Homo sapiens: one gene and its partner. The protein of the gene in region 1 purifies or fractionates together with the protein of each later gene. This does not show direct contact. Each region holds a gene or a part of one and is shown in the gene's direction. Other genes may lie near its edges.

What was found. Proteins that work in one complex are often made in the same cells at the same time.
Region 2: the proteins of MRTFB (region 1) and STK38L purify together in Homo sapiens (pull-down; one large-scale study listed by IntAct). This does not show direct contact.

The regions. Positions count from the first base shown.
Region 1 is NC_000016.10:14,242,319-14,245,818, forward strand, and holds part of MRTFB (myocardin-related transcription factor B), read left to right. Parts: intron 1-3,209; coding exon 3,210-3,342; intron 3,343-3,500. UniProt on the Homo sapiens protein: Acts as a transcriptional coactivator of serum response factor (SRF). Required for skeletal myogenic differentiation.
Region 2 is NC_000012.12:27,320,786-27,324,285, forward strand, and holds part of STK38L (serine/threonine-protein kinase 38-like), read left to right. Parts: intron 1-1,357; coding exon 1,358-1,449; intron 1,450-1,542; coding exon 1,543-1,670; 3' UTR 1,671-3,500. UniProt on the Homo sapiens protein: Involved in the regulation of structural processes in differentiating and mature neuronal cells.

The DNA.
Region 1 (3,500 bases):
ACATTCAGCACCTCTACAATAACCAAGCTCACCCAAGAATAGTATCATACAAAAAGACCCAGGATATTAGAAGGAGAAAGAACACTTATTTTTGTGTATTATTTAACCACAAAAAGAATATAAGTCCTGTTCAATTTCCAGATCCTAAAAATGGAGGCCTTGTTTCCTAACGCATTGTTTATATTTATCAAAATTCCATTACAAGAAACTGAATGTGGAAGTCATAGAGTGCCCATAGTGGTGGGAGTTTACCTGAATCATGTAGCCCTTTGCCACCACAAAGGAGCAAGCGCCCAAAGGGACTAGGCTTTAGTCCAGCCCAGCTTGTCTGCACAATGGGAGGTCACTGGAGGTCCCCGAAGGCCACTGCATCCCTCTGAACGCAGGTCTCTCATCTGCCGATCACATTCGTTAGCAACCTCTCTCTTTTTTCTCCCCTCTATTGATTTGGGAGAAAAATAGATTAACATGTTTCTGTTATTTTAAAGATTGAGTAAAATACCAAACTGTTCATTTTAATAGGTAGAGTATTATAGAATCTCAACAGGAAAAAAAAAACATCCTGAGTAGAATAATTACATTCATTTTCAAGGGGGTAATACCACTCACAAGGAAGCAAAAGGTGGCTCAGCAGGGAGACTACTCTTACGTAATAAAGCACAGACTTACCTGCGGTCCATAAACACATGCTTTATCTCTGTGGTGTTGAAACTTCATGGGGAGAGAGATGTGGAGAAAAATGTCTAAAAGGCTCTTTCGGGGGACAATAATGAATGAAAATAAGGTGGAGAAACACTGATTTAAAGAAAATGTTTTCATAACTCTGAGATTTTACAGTTGAATTTTTATAAAGGATAATAATGATGCATAAAATATTTGCCACTTCATCCAATGATAAGAAACTTCATCCCAAAGATTTCAATTATTTAACTTCAACAAAATTCAGCCAGGTTTTAGAAGACCCCAAAATGAATGTCAAGAGTTAGCTAGTGACAAAGCCAGCATTGGCTTCAACCACAGGCTTCCCAGAACTCTTCAGAGAAAGCTCACCCAACTATGGCTGTCACCCCGTAGGCACTGTCACCTCAAATCCCTGTTTCAGAATGTGGAATTCCAAGTCTCTTGGCTTCAGCACCAAGGCTTTGTGTGATAATAAAGCCTGAAGCTGCAATGGAATCGGCTGTACGGTAGCAACCATCCAGAAAGGAAACACCACTGTTACCAAGAGTATCACAGTTGGAAGATGTTAGGTGGGGATCTCGTTTTAATACTGAAAGTTTAGGGAAATTAGTACAAAGCACCTAACTGTAGTAGAATTTGACAAGTGATGCACCAACTTCTTTTAAGTAAGCTTTTTAAATTGAAGTATAACTTACACACAGAAAAGTACGTAAATTATAAGTGAAAATTGATGCAAAAATAAATACACTCCTGTATCCAATACCCAAACCAAGAACATTTTCAGTACCCCAAAAGCCCCCTTTGTCTCCCTTTTCCATGATCATCCTGACTTCTATCCCCAGAGATTAGTTTTGCCTGTTTTGGGTTTTTTTTTTTTTGAGACAGAGTCTCACTCTGTCGCCCAGGCTGGAGTGCAGTGGTGCAATCTCGGCTCACTGCAAGCTCTGCCTCTCGGGTTCACACCACCTCCAGGGTTCACGCCATTCTCCTGCCTCAGCCTCCCGAGTAGCTGGGGCTACAGGCGCCCGCCACCACGCCTGGCTAATTTTTTGTATTTTTAAGTAGAGACGGGGTTTCACCGTGTTAGCCAGGATGGTCTCGATCTCCTGACCTCATGATCTGCCCGCTTCAGCCTCCCAAAGTGCAGTTTTGCCTGTTTTTGAACTTCATATACACGCAATCTTACAGTACACCTACGTGCATCTTTGTTGGTGCTGATAGCAGTTCATTTTTGTTGTTGTTGTTTAATATTTCGTGACTGACTATAACATAATTTAGCCATCCAGCTTACTCTTGATGCGTAGTTGGGTTGCTTCCAGTTGGGGCTATTAGGAATAACCCCACAGTAAATAGTCTGTGTCTTTTGGCATACATACATGTGTCTTTCTGTTAGATGTCTTATCTAGGAATGGAATTGTGGGATCATAGGATAGGCAGATGTTTTCCTTTAGTACTACGAAAGAAAAGTTTCAAAGAAAAGATGTTTTTCTTTAGTACAGTTTTGCAAAGTAGTTGCATCATTCACAGCTCTGCCAGCAGTGTGTGATTGTTCTGGTTGTCCCAGGTACTTGGTATCAGTCTTACTCATTATATCAATTCCACTGAAAATGCAGGGCTATTCTGTTGTGATTTGCAATTTCCACATACCTAATGAGGTTGAATCATCTTTCACTTATTTATTGACCATTGGGATATACATTCTTGTGATACATCTGAGATTTTTCCCCCCACTTTTCCACTGGGTTTTCTGTCTCTTTCTTACTGATTTTAAAGACCTTTTTATATACTCTAGATATGAGGTCTTTGTCAGAAATATGTATTACAGATATGTTGTCCTGCACTGTGGCTTGACTTTTCACTGTCTTAAAGATGTCCCTTTTACTTAGTGCTTTTTATGTGCTGTTTAAGAAATCTTTGTCTACCCAAAGGCCATGAAGATACTATCCTGAGTGTTTTTCTGAAAGCTTTATTTTCATAATTCACATGTAGATTTTGGGAACAAGGTGAGATGGGGCCAGTCAAGAGCCATGTTTTTTTCTGTGTGAATTTCCAACGTAGCATGGCACCATTGAAGTCCCGCCCTCTCTCCACTACATCACAGTGTCCTCTTTTTGGTAACTCAAGGGTCCGGGTATGCAGAGGGCCGTTTCTGGATTTGCTGGGGCTCTCTCATTTGCCTGTTGTTCTGTCCCTGTATCAGCAACATCACACATTAATTACGTGTTGATGTCTGGTGGTGTGACTCTTCCAGCTTTGCTTTTCTTCAAGGATTCATGGCCATTCTTGGTCCTTTGCATTTCCATATAAAGCTTAGAATCGCCTTCTAAATTTCCGTCACGCTAGCAAACAAACAAAACCTGCAGGGATTTCATTGAGATCTAATGTAATTGGCATCTTTACAATATTCAGCCTTCCAATCCATAACCATGGTATTTTTCTCTTCATAAGTTAGTCAAATTGTTAATAGAAGCAATGTCAAATCTAGAAATTATTTTATTATAAACTCTAATTTTTGTTTTCTTTTGAAGGCCACTCAATGACAAAAATAGTAACAGTGGGAATTCAGCTTTGAACAATGCCACACCTAACACACCAAGACAGAATACATCTACTCCTGTGAGAAAGCCAGGACCTCTGCCTTCTAGCCTGGATGACTTAAAGGTGACAATTGCAACTGGAGCTTATTCACCCCTAAGTACCACAAACATGTAAATGATTTGCCAGCGTTGTCTAGCAGACATTAAGTAGTTTTCAGTAGACATTCAACTTTACCAACAATATGATAATCTTTATAAAAGGTATTTTCTTTTTACTTCCAC
Region 2 (3,500 bases), on another chromosome or scaffold:
TTTTTTTTTTTTTTGAGATGGAGTCTCACTCTGTCGCCCAGGCTGGAGTGCAGTGGCGTGATCTCGGCTCACTGCAAGCTCCACCTCCCGGGTTCACGCCATTCTCCTGGTGGAGGCCTAACTCTTAACCACTATGCTGTATAATACTATACACACATAACTTAATTGAATAGAACTAGAATACCCTCCCTTTTACAGTGGGAAGGATGCTTAGAGACTGCCAGTTCTTTTGGTTTTATAATGAGGGAACAGTCATGGAGCAGGGATTTGGCTGCCTAAGGTCATACTGCTAGTTAATAACAAGGAAGGTTAGCTCTCAGGCCTCCAGGGTTCTTTCCTCTAAACTAGGTTTATTAAAGTAGTATACTAAGTATAAATGAGTTGGAATAATTCTGGTAAAAAATATATATGGTTTTAAATAATTTGGTAAACTTAGCACCTAATAAATCCAATAAATATTTGTTGAAAAAACAGAAGCAATAAAAACTGATAGCTTCTTTTAACCATTTGTATAGCTAAACTTTTTAGCATGATAAGAAGGCATTTTCATGACTGGTTTCTTTTTAACTGAGTATCTTTGATTCTCTTAAAATTTGTATGACAGAAGTTTTTGCATGCAGATTTCATCACAAATATATAGTCCCTTCACCTATGTGCCCCTTATTTTCCCAAATGACTTTTAATTTATGGATTGTCTACTAGTAGAATTCTATTCCTAAATCAATTAAGAAGGATCCTGTCCTCATAATATCTCAAATACTTTATACAATTATACAATCTTTTAAATAAAACCTCTTCTTTTACTTTTCATTAGCTCATTTTTCCACTTAAAAAAATAGGATGAGAAAGCCTTGGGTACAGAGATATAAAAATGGCAAGTAGGTGGAGATGCTTAATGGATACAAAAAAAATAGAATGAATAAGACCTATTACTTGATAGCACAAGAGGGTGACTATAGTCAATAATAATTGTACATTTTAAAATAACTTAGAATGTAATTGGATTGTAACTCAAAGGATAAATGCTTGAGGGAATGGACACCCCATTCTGCACGATGTGCTTATTACCCATTTCATGCCAGTATTAAAACCTCTCATGGACCCTATAAATATATATACCTACCACATAACCCCAAAAATTAAAAAAATATTTAAAATTCTAAGTAAATGAAAACATTTTAATAAAAAATTATACTCAACTATTTTGAACTCCCTTTAACTAATCTCAAATCCACAATAAATTTCCTTGGATTTTCTAGTATCTGTAGAATAGTATGCAGAATTTACAAGTAGAATTATTTGTTGGAAATTGAGAGTTCAAGAAAAGTTACCATGCATACTTAATACCTTTTTATAGGGAAAGGCCAGCAGCAATCCCTATAGAAATCAAAAGCATTGATGATACTTCAAATTTTGATGACTTCCCTGAATCTGATATTTTACAACCAGGTAAGACAATCTGTAATGTAACTAACCCTATTAAAAGTCTTTGAAGATGATGGCATTTCACTAATGAAATTCCTTTATTTTTTCTCTTTCTAGTGCCAAATACCACAGAACCGGACTACAAATCCAAAGACTGGGTTTTTCTCAATTATACCTATAAAAGGTTTGAAGGGTTGACTCAACGTGGCTCTATCCCCACCTACATGAAAGCTGGGAAGTTATGAATGAAGATAACATTCACCCATAACCAAGAGAACTCAGGTAGCTGCATCACCAGGCTTGCTTGGCGTAGATAACAATACACTGAAATACTCCTGAAGATGGTGGTGCTTATTGACTACAAGAGGAAATTCTACAGGATTAGGATTTCTAAGACTACTATAGGAATTGGTTGGCAGTGCCAGCTGGCTCTTTTTTTTAATATTTTATTATTTTTGTTAACTTTATTATATGAAGGTACTGGAATAAAAGGAACAGACATCCCTTTCTAACTGCACTGCCTACATGCGTATTAAGGTCCATTCTGCCTGTGTGTGCTGTGGCTTTGAACTGTAACACCTCTAATCAATTCAGGAGAAACACATATCATTTAAAGCAACATAGGCTAACCTGTAGGTAACACTGCAGTATTGATGTTTTACTGCAAATCTTATGGGTCTAGATAATCAGTAAAAGCCATCTTCCATAGTTGGTGTTAGAACATTGCCCTATTGGTTTGGACATCTGTAGAATATATATGAAGACAATTTCTGTAATGGTTTTAAGAGATTTAAAAAGAAATTCACTGGTTCTTTACAAAATAGAATTTATCATCAAGTTATTACACAAACTTCACAGTAAGGAGTGACAAGTTTATAATAAGGAAGACAAAGTTTAACACCTTCACTCAAGCACTCCACTAATATATTTACGTTGCATTCAGAAATACTGATGACCTTCATATACGTAGTCTGTATACTCATAGGGAGATGTACTGTATTATATAACATGTAAAGTTGATTTTCTTGTGACAAGAGAACTTCTTTTTTTAACAAGAGGACATGGCATTATTTTAATTTGATTATGGTGAGTTGAATTTAAGACATGACCATGAAGGCTGCTTGTAGAATTAGTGTATTTTTATTAAACTATTTTTTTAAATGTCAAACTTCTATCATGTAAATGGACTTATAGAGAACAAAAAGCTATTTACTTTGGTTTTCTAGAAAGTTGTTACATATCATGGCTGGTTAACTTTTATTTCTTTTGATGAAAATTTTTCCTTTGATAGTACTTGTATTATTGTGCCATTATTTTCTTATGCTCCAAATGTACCAAAGATCTTGAACAGAGTGGATGTTCACAACTGAGTAGAATTTTCCTTTCCTGTGGGCATGCTGTATTCAGACCTGACAGATCTTTGATAGAGGTCAGCTTATTAAAGGGCAATATTGTTCTTGTTTAGCTACATCACTGTGGTGAATATAGATGGAATTAAGGAAGTAAATGCAGGCCAGGGGGTTGTGATGAGAGGATAGGGGAGATAATATCAGCATCAAATTCTTTGGGTATCTCTCTAAGAATTAAATAATCTTTTCTAGCTTAATATTTTAATTCTAATTCAAACAACTCTGAGGTTTTGGTTTCATTAGTAATAGTTGAGGAATAATATACTAGCAAAGAATGGCCTAATGTTTGTCATAACTGTTAATGGATGAAATTTTTTAAAGATACAACCATGATAACCATTATAAATGATCTATGATCAAAATCTAAAGTGATGAATTATTTGTAGGAATGTCTTCCTAATGGGGAAGAATTGCATAGGAGCATTATGCAAATCTACACAAGCTTTTATAAATGTTGCTGCTGGGTAGCTCCACAGTGTTTCATAAGGCCATCCTGTTTCCCCCAACTCCCCCATTTTTGGTTTGTTTCTTTTTAAATATTTGTTGAGTACTTACGTGTTTATCTAACAGTTCACTTCCATTTTTCTAGTCTGGATTTTTTGAGTATTTAGGAAAGAGAGCTATTAAAAACTGGGGATTTCTCAATGTGACTAACTCTAATTTTTC